3 linked regions of the Homo sapiens genome follow. The protein of the gene in region 2 purifies or fractionates together with the protein of the main gene of each other region. This does not show direct contact. Each region holds a gene or a part of one and is shown on either strand. Other genes may lie near its edges.

What was found. The genes of interacting proteins can lie anywhere in the genome.
Region 1: the proteins of ANKRD49 (region 2) and CPNE4 purify together in Homo sapiens (affinity purification with mass spectrometry; 2 studies listed by BioGRID and IntAct, with this or other methods). This does not show direct contact.
Region 3: the proteins of ANKRD49 (region 2) and CSNK1E purify together in Homo sapiens (affinity purification with mass spectrometry; 3 studies listed by BioGRID and IntAct, with this or other methods). This does not show direct contact.

The regions. Positions count from the first base shown.
Region 1 is NC_000003.12:132,025,015-132,032,014, reverse strand, and holds part of CPNE4 (copine-4), read left to right. Parts: intron 1-7,000.
Region 2 is NC_000011.10:94,489,957-94,497,139, forward strand, and holds the start of ANKRD49 (ankyrin repeat domain-containing protein 49), read left to right. Parts: upstream 1-4,027; 5' UTR 4,028-4,079; exon of another isoform or gene 4,080-4,214; intron 4,215-6,647; 5' UTR 6,648-6,737; coding exon 6,738-6,995; intron 6,996-7,183. Other genes in the region: double-strand break repair protein MRE11, read right to left, coding at 877-1,009, 2,826-2,845. UniProt on the Homo sapiens protein: Induces HBG1 expression. May have a role in spermatogenesis where it promotes autophagy in response to serum starvation, via the NF-kappaB pathway.
Region 3 is NC_000022.11:38,290,191-38,293,433, forward strand, and holds the end of CSNK1E (casein kinase I), read right to left. Parts: intron 3,130-3,243; coding exon 3,097-3,129; 3' UTR 3,065-3,096; intron 1,749-3,064; 3' UTR 501-1,748; downstream 1-500. Other genes in the region: TPTEP2-CSNK1E (casein kinase I), read right to left, coding at 3,097-3,129.

The sequences.
Region 1 (7,000 bases), on a different chromosome or scaffold from region 2:
CTGCTTGTGTATTTCTAATTAAAAATACCTCATTTCAGTTAGTAGGAAGTAAAGATGTTATCTGTTTATAGAGAAGTTTTATGTAATATTCCAAAACAATAGAAAAAAGCTTTGATTCTTTTAAATAATTAGATTATTCAAGCCCATTATTATGACTTAAAACCTTGAGGTTATACTGACTATAAGAAACAATCACAGACCAAAAAAAATGGGTTAATGGTGGAATCTTTATTCTCATATGTATTTGAATCTTTTGGAATTAATACTGAACACATTTATAAGGTTTGCACTATGCCTTCTTCTGACTTCACTTCGAAAATTCTTTGAAATGTAACACCCTAGAACATTATGTTACCTTTATCCACATAAAGAAAGGATCTTTTCATTTAGAGATGAACTTATTGAAGATGAGCCGTCAGTGTTGTGTGTAATCAATACCACACATTTTCAGAGTGGTCTGAATCCAGAACAAAGAATGAGACAGGTACTCTGATGATATCAACTTGGCTAATTGGGTAAAAGTCTCTACACTAGTTGGGAAAAATCACTTCATGCATCTTTGTATTTTTTAATCAGTGGTGTGTAAGAAGATCTGTATTCCGTGCACTTTGAAGAGAGAAAGGGCTAAATTTGTGTTCCATATTTGATCTTTCCATTTTTGTCTTGTTAATATTTTAAAAGAAAAACAAAAACCTTTGCAGATCCATTCAGTAACCCAAAGTCATATTTCCTTGGCAACAGTAGCCAGTACACTAGATTTACAAAATATCAAAATAGAAAAATTTAAATGCATTCAAAATAAAATGTCACATAGTTCAAGACCATTCTTTGGTGCATTAAAACTGATCTTCCAACATGTAATAATACAGTTGCCTTTCTCCTGATTGAATGTAGATGGCAAAGAATAGATTACTGATTTTAATTCTTTTTAAGATGTCCCCAAAATCTTATAATATTTTCTTTTCAGGGAAGCACATTATGATAATAATTTAGGTTGGGGTTACACATCCATTTTTTGGATAAAGTATTTATGTGATAGTTGATGGTAAATCCAAAAATCAAGCACAATAAATGGGTCAGGTAAGATGCATCATCTTTTCTATGTTATTTGAAATAGTCTATAGTAAGGCCTCAATTAGTGTTAAACTCAGTGAATATCTCCTAAACTTGTGACTGCATAATAAAAACATATTAGTGCCTACATATACTTTCAGGTTTTCTTTTTCTGTACTAGAAACTGCAGTTATGTGGGAGCTTTCTGTTTGCTGTATGAACTACTAAATATATGTGATATATTGGATATATTTTCTCCTAAATCAGCACATCCTGGGAAGTCCTTTATTTGTCTGCTGTATTCTTTGGAAACCCTCTTGGGAACCATCAGCTTTTAGCTCAGTAAATATTGAGGGTTGGAAGGCAAGTCTCAAAAATAAGAAAGTGATAAGGATGCCTTCTTTGGGAAAGTTTATTCCAGTCCTATTATTTTAGTCATAGGGCTGGAAGGGGAGCCCATTTAAGCTGATCTGTGATGGACTCATCTCTAAACTGTGATCAGCAACTTTCAACAGTGCAATATTTACCCAATAAATGTGATTGAATTTGTACAAAGTCATTGTCTGCAGCCATCTCCGTTAATGTGCATGTTCTATGACTCTCAGAACTGGAAGAGAGCTTGGGGATCATCTGCTGACTCTAGCAATTTAATTTGACAAATGTGGAAACTAAAGCTCAAATAAGTGACTTCTCAAAATCAGGAGACTCATTCAACAACCCTTCTGATTACTCCCCTCATAAAGAAACTCAAGTTCCCTGGAGATAATTACAGCAGTGGAGCCAATCTCTGGCACCATGTGCACTGCTGATCTTTATTAAGTATGAGTTAGGGATGATTGCGGGGGTGTCTCCCACCTCCATTAGAGTGTTAGGAGGAGTAGGCTTGGGACTTATTACATTGCTGTCTCTTGGAGCCAGTGCAATATTTACCCAATAAATGTGATTGAATTTGTACAAAGTCATTGTCTGCAGCCATCTCTGTTAATGTGCATGTTCTGTAAAAAATTGCTCATGCATAGACTTAGCTTTCTATTTTAAATGTCACAATTGAGTCAATAAAGTAAACAAAGAGAGTTTATGAGTGTTTACAGTTCCAGGAACACACAGGGGAATCCTTTATTCTGTTTTAAATTAAAGCGTCATTCAAAAAGAACAAACTTTCTTAAATGTTGCTTTTACATCTTTGGCTCAGAACACAGTATTTCTAACTTTGTTTTTCTTATTACTTAGGAAACTAGAGAAATTTCTCCTTGGAAATGTCAGGGGGAAAATACAGTATTTCGGATTAACTTTAGAAAGCTCAGGTTTAAGGCTTATTGACCAGAAGACCTCTTTCTTATCCAAGTGTAGGGCAATTCATTGCACCTTGAGGTAGGGGAGGAGCAAAATCAGGCTGGCAGGGGTCCACGGCAGGGCAAGCCCTAGGAGCTGGTGAGTCTAGAAGGACGGACTAGAGAGAGCTGGCATTGGAATGGACAATCGCTAGAGGGCGCCGGAGCACTAGCAGAGTCAACCTCCGGGACCCATAAGCAGGGCTTCTAGGATAAGGAATGGAGTTTGACCCAACCCCAAGATATGCCCTGGGGATATTGGTTTTCTCAGGTGCATCTGACTCTCCGGCCTGGATTGCCTCGCTGCGGAGAGGGGACAAAAGGTTTTGCCCTGAGCATCTGGTGGTGTCTTCCAGTGCCTGGTTAGGTTGCTCCGCGGCTGGACAGTCTGACTACTCTCAAAACTCCTCGTGACAGGCCTTTCTGGGGTCTGATCGCCCTTTGTTTCCTTACACTTGGGCCTGTTATCAGAAGAACTCTGAATCCGGAAATACCTTGTTTAAATTTGGGCTACAGTTTTCAAGATCCAGGCATTTGGGTGAATCACTTAACCCGAGTATTAGGATCTGGAAAATGGGGCTAGTAATTGTTGTAAATGTGAGGTGTTTAAAAGTGTCTGGCATTTTAGTGCGTAGATAAATGCTACTTCCTGTGCCCATTCTCTTGGGAGTTCTCCCCAAACTTCACCCTTTAAAAAAAAAAAAAAGAAAAATTAAGAATATATTTTACTTAACACAAAATTTTAAAAAATCATGTAATCGATATAGAGATTATTGAGATATTTTACATTCTTTTTTTTCTAGTACTAAATCTTTGAAATCTAGCATGTATTTTTATACTTACAGCACATTTTAATTCAGATTTGCCACATTTTAAGTGCTTAATGCTCCTATGTGGGTAGTGGCTACCCTATTGAAACAGTGCAGATCTATAAGAAGAGAAAATAAAATTACTTTCGCCATTTTTCCTTTTTGTTAAAGGTTAGCAATAATATATACAATGCTTGGCACACAATAGGAGCTTAACACAGGTTCACTGTGATTGTTATTTGCTATCACCATTTTATTTTTAAATGGGCCTCTTCTCCCATCTCTTATCCCTTCCCCCATCTCTTACCCCTTCCCCCTCAGCAGAAGGGTCTCATTCATCTATCTGTTGAATAATAATTGGTCACAGCATTTATGTCAAAAGCTGTGCTAGGCACTGGGGATAAACATAAAAACTTGAGGCACAGGCAGACTGGTGAAAAGAAACATTGAAATTGTGCTGTTAAGTGTGAGGAGAAAGATGAACAAATGATGCTAGGTAAGAGATAAAGAAGGAGATATTTGGTTTGTCTCAAAGGACCTGGGAAGTGGTCCTTTACAAGTCCTGTTATACTAAGGTGTTTTTCCTCTCCCTGTATTTCAAGGAAACAGGTGGACAGAAGGTAATTTTGAGGGAGAAGTGGAGGGGGTGGCATCTCATTCAGCAGGCACTTTGGTTTGTATGTATTCTTAACAGCGCTAATAGAGATTCTAAAATCTAATCAACTTGCACCATGCCCTGTATGTAGTAATTTCATCAATATCATGAAGTAAATGCCTAAATCATTGACTTAATTCATTTAAACAGAAAATGATTTGGAAGGAAATGTAATAGAAATATAACCAAGAACCTTTACCATTAAGTGATGGGTCTGAAACAATCTAAATAAGAACTCTGTTTTAAAAATATTGAAAGGTGTATTTCATACAAATATCCATAAAAATGAAAAATAATAAGGGCAATAGAATGGCCCAAAACAATACTTTATCATTATCATTAAAGACAAAGAAGGCTTTTAAGATGTTAGTAGCCACTAGCATTGCAAGATGACTGAGGTGATGTCTTTGTTATCTTCGGAGCAGTTGATTCAACAGGTAACTCAGAGATATAAATTTCAGTGGCAAAAGTCAAGGAGTTTTGCACCTGACATTGTGCTAATGTGAAACTAGGGATGGACACCTTTGATCATGTGTGTTAACGTTATCTGGCCAGGTAGACTGCAGAGCTCCCGAGAAGCCATTGTCAGATTTCTTTTGCTTGGTGGCCTTTACGTCCTGTGACTTGACTGATTGTGAATTGTATTGGAGAAAAGGCACGATAAGAGGAAAAGAGTGGAAATAGTTGATTTTTTGGCAACTAATAACACTCATGATAGCTCCTAACCTGATTTAATTTTAAAAAGATGGGAAAATAAATGCCTCTTATGGAATAAGAGAATGTGAGAACTTGGCAATCCCATAAAATTATGCACACCCCTCCCATTTTCCAGATAAGAAAAAAGAGACTCAGCAAGGTGAAGTGACTTGCTCAAGCTCGTTGGTGGCCTAGTTACAGCAGTGAGAATAAAGGCTTCTTCACTCCTGGGCCTGGGGTTCTTCTCTGGCCCATGCCACACCACACTCCTCTCTCCTCTCCACTTCATGCTTCAGGGGGTCAGAACTCTCTCTGTCTTGCTCACAACTGAACCCCAAACAGTGCTAGGTACCTAGTAGTTGCTCAAAAACTTTTGGTTGACTGAATGAAATAAGCTGTTTCTTTCTTCCTCACTCATATCAGGAAATGTGCCAAGAAATCACAGGGTTGCAATGCAGTTTGATAAAGACAAATATGTGTTAAGTTTTGTTATGATAAGGGCTTAAGCTTTAAAAGTAAGCATACTTAGTTTGAACGCTGGCTCTGGCACTTAATAGCTGTTTTGCTTTGGGGAAATTACTAAACCTGTCCCTATTTCCTCATTTGTAAAAATGGAGATTAAACCATATATATAAGGCTATAAGGCAGAAGAGAGGCCTTGACTCACTGTATGTATGCACTCAATGTTTTTTTCCTACTTTCCCAACCTTGCTCTCCATCCATCCTGAGAAGATTTAAAGTGGGATATAGTACTTCTTTTAAAAAGTAATGTTAATTTATTTCAGATAATATGCATTTATCTTGCAGAAAAATAAAATTATTTAATTATATAAATATAAATACATACACAGTCACTAGAAGTGTATATTCTGTGGGTTAGATATTAATAGTACTGTTTTATAAATAATTTGGTCAGTTGTCAAAGCACTGGCAACTGGGAGGAAGAGGAATGAAATTTAGGGTATCCCTATTCCAATTCAGACCAGGGCACATTTATCCAGTCCATGCTTCATAAGATCTTTGCTTCTTGGGCTTGGATTCTCCAAGTTGAAGTTAATTCTCTTTACCATACCCTCTCCTGGCCTGGCTATGCTTCAGCCCCTGCATTGTGTGCCTTGTAACATGGTTATTCATAGATATGACCATGTCTGTAGCATGTTGCAAGCTTTTCCAAGTAGCAGTTGTATATCACACTTCTTGATATGACTCCAGAGAACCTAGAACTTTTTTGGCACATAGGATACTCCCTCTGTCACTCTGGGTGCATCTCCATTCCCTTAGCAAATATCCTGCATCCAGGCAAAGCATGCTTTTAACTTACTCAAAATCTATTCTACGCCTGCTCTCATTTATTAAAAATATTCTTATTATATTTTGATTATTGACTTTATCATATCATCCAAATTGATATATGAAGTTGTATGACATATTACTACTGCACATAGTTGTATCTGTAATACAACATATATTGTACTTCATGAAAAATTTATAATATTTTTCAAGGATTATTTTGACTACGTGTGTGTTGTACTTTACGCATTGACTTTAAATCACAGTCCTCACCTCAAATGTGCTCCACTATATTTGCAAGACTATTCTGTGTGTTGTATGTAGGTAGGTAAGATTGTGTATTGGTGAATGGCATAAATTTTAAGTCAGGAATTCCTAGGTTTGAATTTCAGCTCTGCTTAACCTGTTGAAGCTCAGTTTTCATAGATATAGAATGAGAATAATGATTGTGTCTATGTTATAGGATGGCTGTGAAGCTTGCTGTCACTTGGAAATTACTCAAATTGCAACCTTTATTTGCTGGTGGCATCTCTCACAAACTAGAGGCTTATTAGTAGTTAATTACCCTAATGGTAATGGTTTGCTGTGTTGCAGGGGAATTGTGAAAATTAGAAGTGTGTTTATGAAGGTATGGTAGATATCAGCAACAAAATGTATGCTTTTCATAGCTACTGAATCATTTACCCTTCTTCTCCCTTTCCTCCTCTCCTCTCTCTCTGTTCCTACTCACAAATTTTATGCCCAGCCACAAAAGGTGACTCAAGCGTTATGCTGGAGTTTCTCTAAGATAAAACTTCCTCTGTTTCTAATGGTTCCAGCTTTATTTCAAATGAAAGGTACGTTTAGTACTGGCCCCAGGAACACAACCAGAATACAAAATCAATCATTCCACCCTACAAGACCAGCAGCAGAAATTTATTGTATTTGACTTTGTTTCCCCTGCCCTTGTCCCAAAAGGATCTTAGGCTGCCAGCATTAGACAACATATTGGGTATCTCTCTGTTACGAAAGTCTAAAATGTTACTGGCATAAAATATTATCTTCAAGCCATGGTTCTCAAACTTGAGGATGAGTCAGAATCTCCGAATCTCCTGGAGGGCTTGTTAAAACCCGAAGTGATGGGCCCTTCCTGTGGAATTTCTAACTCAGTGGGTCTAGGGTAGGAG
Region 2 (7,183 bases):
TCATCCCCACCCCGCTACAACTAACCAAAGTACACAAATCCTCTTTTTGCAGTATCCCTTGCATTCATTTCCTCTTTTCCATCCCTAAGGTCAATACTTCAAAAAAAGCCTCTAACTGGTCTCCAATTCATGGTATTATACTCCGCTGCCAAAAGACTTTCTCTTGAACTGGATACAAATTTCTCAATCTGATATTTGAAGTCCTCATTAATGCAGCTCAAATCCTTCCTTCTAGTCTCTCAGCATGCTTGCTAACTATGACCTGCTGGTGAGCCAAATTGACTACAGGGCCCCTAACATACCTTATACTGTCTCACGGGTTTCCTCACTCCTGCTTCACATGGATGTACATTCTCTATGCTCCCCACTGGCCAAAAGTCTACCCTTCCTCCAAAGCCCAAGTTAAACACAACCTTCTTCATTAAACTCATCTTGCTATAATCTAAACGTGATTTTTTCTGCCTCTAAACTCAAAGGAAATGTTATTTAGAATTTTCTTAGGGCTCCTATCACATACAACCTTGCATCTGTGGATTGTGGATATTTGTCTTTCACACCAGTTTTCTTCTACGTTATCTGAAAGCAGAAGCTTTGACAGTCACCTTACATTTCGAATAGACACTGCCACAGGATCCTGCATTCAGTAAACACCCCAAAAACATTTGTAAATTTTAACAGACTATTTACAAAAGTAGCTCCTACTTGAATTTAAGACACAAAGCATACAAAATCAGCTTTGAGCTTTCAGTATATTGATATTCAAGCAGGCAAGGTAAGCACCTGAGCTTATAAAACAAATCTCTAACTTTAGAAGGAAAAATAACTTGTTAACCAAGGGAATATGGTAGATAGTGCACAAATACAAACCACACTCACTTCATTTTCCTGGGCAAGTCTTAAAATTTCATCGAGTGTTACAAACGTATCATTTCCTCTGACTGCATCTTTCTCCATAAATCCAAGATGAATATCTGTTGCAACTAATATTTTAAATGTGTTTTCATCATCACTATATTAAGAAAGAAGAAACATTTCAATATATTAATAATTCATTAAAGGATATTCAAACAAATTGAGACAAACTTATAAAATAAATAATAACAGTTATAGAGTAAAATCATTTTTTTTAGCCTTAGAGTTCATCTGAAAATCTGAAGTATTCAACGTTATCATTAACATTACAGTTTTCCTAACCACTAGTTCAATACAGAACAAATGTACATAAATCTTTACAAGGTTCTATAACTGCTTCAAAAATTTATAACCTTGTTATAACCAGTTTTACAAACTCATGTAACCCAGGCCCAAAAGTTTGCTTGTTTTCCTCAGATAAATAAACTTGTTATTTATCTGACTTCGTACTCTTCCAGGAAAATCGAAGTTAATTTAAAAAGCCTTCCTCTAAGTTTATGAGTCAATTTTATACTAATATGCAATAATTTACATTCAGGGCCTTGAAGACACTTGCATGACTCTACTCTCTACAGAGTTAGATTTCATTAATAAAGTTGGCCAACACAGAATTGTTTCAATTTGAATTTGGTAATATTCAAAGGTACTTTAATGTGAAGTAGCAATGTAATAGTTATTAATACTCTTACACTAAATTTAATTGTATGAAATACTTTTATTTTTATGATCTCATCTCAACCCTCACAGATAAAGAGTCAGGCATTATTATCTCTGACAAATGAGAAGGCTAAACCCAGAGAAATTAACTGCTTTATCACATAACTAGTGACAGAAACAGGACTAAAACCCATGATGAAAACTCAGGCTATTTTCAATAAACCACAATGAATTTTTAAAAAATCTCTGTATATATCTCCAAAATTCAAATCTTTACAAACAAAAGATATTTCCACAAACGATTTCTCTTCAAAAACTTCAAAAATGATATGCACACAGTTCTCACTGATATATCCAAGAAGGTAGGTCAGATACTTTTCAAATCATAATACTACATGTTTCTGTAGCAATTTATGAAGTATTTTCTCATGAATTCTCTCATTTAAGCCTCAAAATTAATCTGAAAAAGGTATAATTATTCCAATTATACCAATGGCAAAATTGAGGCAAGGCTCAGAGAACTGCTGACTTGCCCAAGGTCACACAGCTAGTAGGGTCCAAGGACTTGAAACTAGGGTAAAAGACTCCAAGTCTAAAGTCTTTCCCACATAACTTTTTTTTTTTACGATCTCGGCTCACTGCAACCTCCGCCTCTCGGGTTCAAATGATACTCCTGCCTCAGCCTCCTGAGTAGCTGGGATTACAGGCATGCGCCACCACGCCTGGCTAATTTTGTATTTTTAGTAGAGACGGGGTTTCACCATGTTGGTCAGGCTGGTCTCCAAATCCTGACCTCAGATGATCCCGCTAGCCTCGGCCTCCCAAAGTGCACATAACTTTTACAGTCCTTTTATTTATTCCCATTCCATTCAAATTCATTTCCAGCTTATTTAATACTAGAGGAATTTACTCTAAAAATCTTAAACAGAACTGCATTGACTAATAAGAATTTGTCAGGAAAATTCAAGAATATTTATCACTTCAATAATTTAAGATGAAGCCTAAGAACATAAACAATACTATATCAATATATCAAATTACTGCAAGACTCCAATCTATAGCTGCATATTAGCTTCCAGTTAACAAACAGATAAATATTTAAAACATTCCAAATACCCTTTTTGATGACTAATATTTCTGTTCATAAACAGGTTCCTTATTTACTGCTTATTAAATAAGTTTTCTTTTACTGTGATCACAGTTGACGAGCTTTAGAAACCCCAAATAACAAGGGATTCCAGAAGTCAGGTGCTTACAGTGCATCTGCAGTACTCATTTTTATGGTCAGTCAAGCTCCTCTGGGACCAGGTTCTTCTCCAAGAACCCCTGGGTACTGTACTCAAATGTCAGAAAATGCACTCGATTCCAAATTCTAGAAATTCTAAAAACAAAATTACATCATAAAACACATTTTTTAAAAGCCTGCACGTATTTAACCAACATGATTTACGCTGCACAAGGTACAGACGTCTTAATTAGACTGGCAAATTTAGAAGTCTCATTTTCATCTAAGCACCCACTATACTTTTTTTTAATGAACTGAGCATAGAAAATAATATATCTCCAGTGTACATCCTGTTTCCTAGTTTCACCAAGATGATTAAACTCCTATTTTCCTTTCCCGTGCTCTTATGGGAAATTAATGTATGCTAAATAAATGGGCAGAAAGGGTCACATACGGTTCTGGTTCAACACACAAACAACTCTAGATGTGCAGATATTTTTAAGTTGCACGCATAGGTTACTCTGGAGAACAGAGGCAATCCTGTATTTCCTATTCAAACCCCACGATTTTTTTTAAAGGACCTGGCTAGTTTGGAAAAGGGAACGGGCCCGCGTTTAAAGCGAGTGTAAATAAACAAACACGTGGTCTGCGGAGGAACACCTTTAAGCACCAGCAGGATGACTGAAAATAGCCAGGTTTGGGGAAGAGTGGCTGCCACCGCGAGACAACCCCCACCACATCTGGAGCTCCAGATTCCGTCGGGATTCCAAGCCTCAACACGCCCTCACCGCAGGGAACCTCGGAATCAGAACGCTGAGCCCGCCAGGACCCCTCCCCTGCCCACTCGGCCCGCTCTTCCCGAGGTTCCAGTTAACTCTGGGCTTCCGCCTGGGAACCTGCAGAAACAGGAGACGAATGCGATTCCTAAATTACCCCACTGCTGGACTCTTCGAAGCCCCACAATCGCGACCCAAGGCTGTCTTCTTTTCGGGAAGAAAGGGCAGGATCCGTGAAAAGAAAACAACACGGTCTGAACTTGCCTCTGAGAACCCGCAGGGCCGTAAACCTGAATTCCGCGGGAGAGAACGGCGTCCGTTTCTCTCGCGACACTTCATGGATAACGTAGATGCTTCAAGTCCAGTTCGGCTCTCATTGGCTACCGCACGCAGTGAGGGGGCGGGGAAAGTAGCGGCGAGGCCCCGCCCTCACGCAGGAGCCAATCCTGAGCAGGCTAGGAGACGAACCCGGAAGTGAGATGCAAGGCGGCGATTTTCCCTTCTGTCAGGTGGGTTGTTATTCCCTGTCCCGGACCTCGCTTTTTGATGGACCGGCGCCATCTAAGAACTCCTGAGCCCGTGGGGGTGGGTAGCCTGTGGACACAGGCCGAGCCCTGCAGGTCAGGCCGCTTCGTGGTCCCCAGGTAGGACCGAAGCCGCTTCTCCGCTCTTGGCTGTTTGGAAGGCCGCAGGCGGAGCTCACGGGCCTGTGAGCTCCCGGCTGGTGGCAGAGTGCCGGAGCTGGATCCCCTCTCCCTCCCTCCCAGTCGCCAGACCCTCTACAGGTGTCGCCCCTAGGTCCTTGAGTTCAGCACATCTGCACTGCTTTGTGCTGAGAGCAGTAAGATGTATAGTGCAGCGAAAAATAATGTAGAACTTTTGAATTAGAACGTCTGCCCTTTCAGTTCCATTGAAGGGTCCTTGATCTAGGGCAAGTTGTTTTAATCTATCTGAACCTCCTTCACCAGTAAGGTTTATAGCCCCGCCTATCACTGAGTTGTTTGTAAGGAGTTGACATAGTTCGGATCTCTCTCAAAATAGGATATGCCCTTTAAGTTAGGAAACATACCCTGACATTCCTGATGGAATATCAGGAATATCATCATCAAGTCATCAGTTTTGTTTCTTAACTGTAAGTCGGGTAGATGCGCCTAGGCTTGGCTTTTTAAACTAAATATACCAGTAAAATTTTGTACATAATTTTTTGTATCTGGATCTGTAAACTCAAAATTTATATAAAGGGAGTTTTTATTGAAAGGAAAAGCATGTTGGGGGAGAGGGTAAGATCTGTGGTATAAGGTTACTATATTTGATATAATTACAAGTGAACTTTTATTTATTAGCATCTGTTAAGTGTTTAATGAATTGATGTATGGTCATTTTTGTGTTGCAAGGTTCAGGAATTAGTTTGAGAATCAAAGAAAAAGTGGAAGCTCCAGGAGAATTAATAAAACACAGAGCAATTCTGATTGGATATCTCTGATTCCAAGGGTGTCTCTGATTGGGTGACTGAAAAGCCGGATTGGCCTTAGGAATACTTTAGTAAAATTCTTACATTTTACAATAAAGTAACAGGACCAGAAAAGTTACTGGACATGAGTAATACATTTAAACTTGAGTTTAGTGCTATTGCCACTAGTAATAAAGTTTAATACCACATTAAGATTGTATACTGTTAAACTTGTGAGATTAGGTATCAAGAAATCAGTATCTTGGGGTTATGCCTAACTCTGGAACTTCTCAGAATCCATTCCAGGCAAAATCAAGTGACAAGACTTTAATTAAATGTAATGCTACACATACTTCTTAATGCCTTCTATAGACAAGTAGGAGATAAATATAAGTTAAATGTGGTCCTTATCTTTCAGCTTATAATCTTTTAAGGGGCTAAAACAAGAACAAAGTTAGAGGTGAAATGTAGCACCAAAAAAAGTAGAAAGCAGAAAGCGATCTAAATGAGAGGATCAAGAAAGAATGAAAGAGATAACATCAGAGAAGAGCCTTGAAAGACTGATTATATTTCAACAAATAGAGTTGAGAGGCTGGGAATTCGTATTTGTAAATTATCTATTGGTTATTCTCCTTTTCTTTAATTGATTAAGGTTTATATGTTGTGTAACCCTTTAAGCTGATATTGGTTTAAAAATTAATATGGCAGCTTAGCAGAATAAACATCAGTTCCTTCAGGAAGCCTTCTTTAATCCCTTAGGACTAGGGGAATTATGAACCTCCTGTATACTCATGGTTTCTAGACAAGGTCTTGTAGTAGTACTTATCATGTTGTCTTTGCCAGACACATGATGTCTTTGCCAGTCACCTACACTAGAGTAAGCTTCCTGAGGTGAAGACATGGATCTTGCTCATTATTGAATCCCAGTACCCAGAAGTTGGCACATACCAGACATTCTATTCATATTAGTTGAATGAAGGAATGAATGACAGCCAAAATTCAGTTGAAAACAAGGACCCAACTAAGAACTATAGTTGCCTATCAATAAACAGGACTACTTTTTAAAGCAGTGAATTTTCCTAGGCCTGAAATTATCAAAGTAGAAATAGGATAATTAGTGTAGATGCTGTGATAAAGATATATGTACCGATGACAGATTGGAACAGATGTCCTTTTGGGGGCTATTCCATCTTCAAGAATCCCTGATTCTTCGAAATAGTATTTTTAGGAATTAGAAGTTTTTATTTCTGCTCTATATTATCTGTGTGTCTAGTTTATAAAAATCTTGAATGCACCTGTCTTCATTGTATTAGTTATACTTCAAAACCTTTAAGCATTCATCACTGTTAGCATAACACCATCATACCTAAACCAGTAGATTAAAAATAATAGTTATAATAATATAATTGACTTAGAAGAAAACAACAAAAGTAAGAAGCATTAGACCACTATTAGATCATAGTTTGTTGTTTTCTGTCAGCATCAGTATTTAGTGTATGTAAGGGATATCATGAGAAAAACAAGAGTTTAGACAGGGTTTAATTGTATATGTTTGCAAGACTTATCTATGCAGTTGATAAAGCCTGAATTATTGTTTTACTAATAACTTTTGTATTTGTGTTTTCAGATCTTGATGAACAAAGCAGTCATAATTCATCTCTAGAAAGATTTATATCCTGGCATTTGAAATGCTTTTTATTTAGAATAGTAGTAAAAAATGGAAAAAGAAAAAGGAAATGATGATGGAATACCAGACCAAGAGAATTCCTTGGATTTTTCTGAACACTTTAACCAACTTGAATTGTTGGAAACACATGGACACCTTATTCCTACTGGTACTCAAAGTCTTTGGGTAGGCAATTCTGATGAAGATGAGGAGCAAGATGACAAAAATGAAGAGTGGTATCGATTGCAAGAAAAAAAAATGGAAAAAGACCCAAGCAGATTGCTTCTTTGGGCTGCTGAAAAAAATCGGGTAAAAAAAAAAATTACAGAGGGAAGTGTGACAGTAGGAAAAGCACTGGGTTCAAGCCAGAAGACCTGCCTTTACTGTTATGGCCATCATACCTATCTCTTGATTGTGAGGACCAAATGAGACAATGTACATGAAAGCACATATTAAGCTGCAAAGTGTCATGCTAGGTATTATTTGGGGGTTTAAGG
Region 3 (3,243 bases), on a different chromosome or scaffold from region 2:
GTCAGAGCACCCCCACAACCCCCACAGCGAGATGACCTCGGCTCGTCTTGCCTCTGCCACCAGAGCTGTGACTGTGGGCAAGATATTTTACAGCAGGACCAGTTTCTTGTCCGAAGGCAGGGCTATTAACAGGACCTAACTCAGGATACTTGTGTGGATAAAATCATGTGTGAAGAGCTTTTAGGGCCTTGCTTCTCAAAGAGGGGCCCCAGGCCATCAGCACACCTGGAGTGTGCAGGGGGAAGCTCTCAGCCCCACCCCAGCCCTCTTTACAAGACCCCCGCGTGGCACCTGTGGCGTGGCACCTGTGTGCACTCGTGTTTTCAAAGCCCCCGGACATCCCAACCACAGCCCAAGTGTTCTGAAAGTGGCCCCAGCCACACCTGCCTTCAGGGCGAGGGCTTGTTCCTCACTGACTCCTGCTGCTCCCAGCAAGACCCACTTCCGGGTCTGCAGGGAGAGGCCCTAAGGGCACAGAGGTGGACAAAGGGCTGCCTGCATCACTTTATCTTTTCTACTTTATTACTTCAAATTAACAACCACGATAAAGCTCAAAAAAGTCCAATATTTACACAGGAAAAAAGTACAAAATTCCCCCCAAAGTTCTTCAGTTTTTTTTTTTTCAGTTTTTTAAATTACAAAGTAATAAAAAGCTTTGCTCTTTAATTAAAAAAAAAAAGGAAAAAGGGGAAACAGAGGTAAATAAATTAGGAAAACACACACACGGAGAAAACAAACAAAAATAAAATAAAATAAAAACAAAAAGGTGTTAACTAGGAAGGATGGGTTAATCCAAAACCCAGCCCTGACTCCAGGCTCCTCCTCAGAAAGGTGGAACCAGGGAGAGGGGGGACCCCAGGTGACTGTCAGGACCAGGGAAGTAATTTATAACTCAGAGCCAGATGCCTTCTGGAAGCAGTCTCCATGGATTCTGCCCTAAAACCAGGAATGGAAGATGGAGCTGCCACCGGCTGATGACGGGCTAGGGGGGGACCGGTGGCAGCGAGGACCCTCTGAGCTCTGAGGGATGCGGAGGTCACCGCCCACCCCCATGTCCTTGTTAGTAGACACAGGAGAACGGGAATTCGGGCTGGCAGGCGGGGCGGGCCGTGGCACCTGCTGTCTTGGGAAACACAGGTCAATACATCCACACACACACACACACACACACACGCAGGGGACGCCGGCCCCCACCACCTCCCCACCCACTCCATGGAGAGGCAGAGGAGGAGCCTGGAGGCCAGGGGGACAATGGAAAAGCCCAGCACGGGAAGTCAGCCACTGTCATCTCAGAGTGGGTGGGGCTGTGCGTATCTCCTGGATTCTGAGGCTCGGAAAACTCGGTGGGAACTGCCTTCAACTGACTACACCACTCCCTGATGATGCTTGAGGGCCGGCTTTGGCTCTGGGACCTGTCACTTCTCCGACACGGACCCGACCCGTTCCTCTCCAGGCAGGTGGTGGGTGGGGGCAGGAACAGGAGGCCGGGCAGGCCCTGGCGTCTGGCTCCTGTAGCCTGGTGTTGTCAGGGGAGCATCTGGCAGCCTGAAGGTTGGGGGCAGCGGGCACCACAAGGGGGCAAGAATCCTCAGTGCTGAGGGCATCTCATCTTCTTGCCATTGGCAAAGAAATCAAAGAAACAAACTCCATCGTCGGTTTTGTGCTGGGTTTTTTTGTTGTTCTTTTGAGTGGTTTATTTTTGCCTTTTTTTTTTTTTTTTTTTTTTTAAAGAAAATACAGTGAAGACACTAGAAGGGAGAAGGGAAAAGACAGGTGAGGTACACAGCTGTCTCTGGCTACTTTTTTTTTTTTTTGAGATGGAGTCTCGCTCTGTCCCCCAGGCTGGAGTGCAGTGGCACGATCTCGGCTCACTGCAACCTCCACCTCCCAGATTCAAGCAATTCTCCTGTCTCAGCGTCCCGAGTAGCTGAGATTACAGGTGTGTGCCACCACACCCGGCTAATTTTTGTGTTTTTAGTAGAGATGGGTTTTCACCATGTTGGCCAGGCTGGTCTCGAACTCCTGACCTCAAGTGACCCACCTGTCTGGGCCTCCCGAAGTGCTGGGATTACAGGTGCGAGCCACTGCACTTGGCCCCCCAAACTCCTGTCTTCTCGTCCCTTGGTCTATCTCCCTCTGGGCCCCAGAGCCTGGCTCAAGGCCCAGCACGCTAGGAGATCCATCTTCATGTGACAGAAACGGATTCTCTCCCTTCTCTGCCCTCCTGGTGAGCATCTCCCCACCCCACCCCCAAATATCTGCCCAGCCCGCCATGGACAGCTTGGTTCCTGGGCCTGAGATCCGAGGAAGGCCAGCCCTGTTCATGCCTCCACTCTCTTGTGTGGATGAATTTCTACAAAACAGACCACACACAGATTGTCCCAGTGTAAAGTTGAGTCCCCCGACGTGTCGGACTACTGCCTACAAATGGACACACGTTCCCCAGAGAGCTCAGATTATACCCTCGAGAAGCCCAAAGAACCCCTGCCGCCTCCCCTTCCCCAAGCCAGGCCCCAGAGTGGGGCGTTTCCATACCCCGCCTCAAGGCCTGGTACAGTCCGGGAAGAACCAGCAGGCTCACGCTGGCCAGAGGGCCTCTCTCAGTCCTACTACAGAGGCATAAAAAGGGCTCCTTTGCTTCCTCCACAGCCCTGTTGTGAGTCTTGTGCAGGAATTAACTTGCGTAACAGCCCAGAGGCTGAGACAGGGCTAATGCCGTGGGAGAGGTCAGAGTGTGAGCCCATGGCCCCGTCTCTGCTGGGAACCAACCTTCCAAAATATGTTAAGGCAGAAGGAGATAGAGACCTGGCCGAGGGCAGAAAAAGTTTTTCCAGCAGAAACTAATCCATGAGGGGTCAGGCCTGAGCATAGAAACCCTTGGCCCCAAGTCAGGCAGCCTCCGAGGTTTTAAACTACTTGAGGCCCCTTAGAGTTCTGGGGCGCCTGGTACCATCTGCCACTGCCACTGCCACCCACCCCTCCACAACACATTGGTCTCTTTCTGGGGCCCTGGGAGCTTCTAGGTCGGCTGGGCTGGCTGCATCTGCAGCAGTCATGGACTCACCTAAGCAAACACTGGTCCAATGGGGGCTCTCCTCACTTCCCGAGATGGTCAAATGGCACACTTGTCTTTTGAGGGTGGGGAGGGAGAGAGGGGGAGGGAGAGAGAGGGAGGTACAAGCTTCAAGTCAAGTCCCTTAGCCGCTGGCGATAGAGATTTGGCAAGTCTCTCCCCACTGAGGA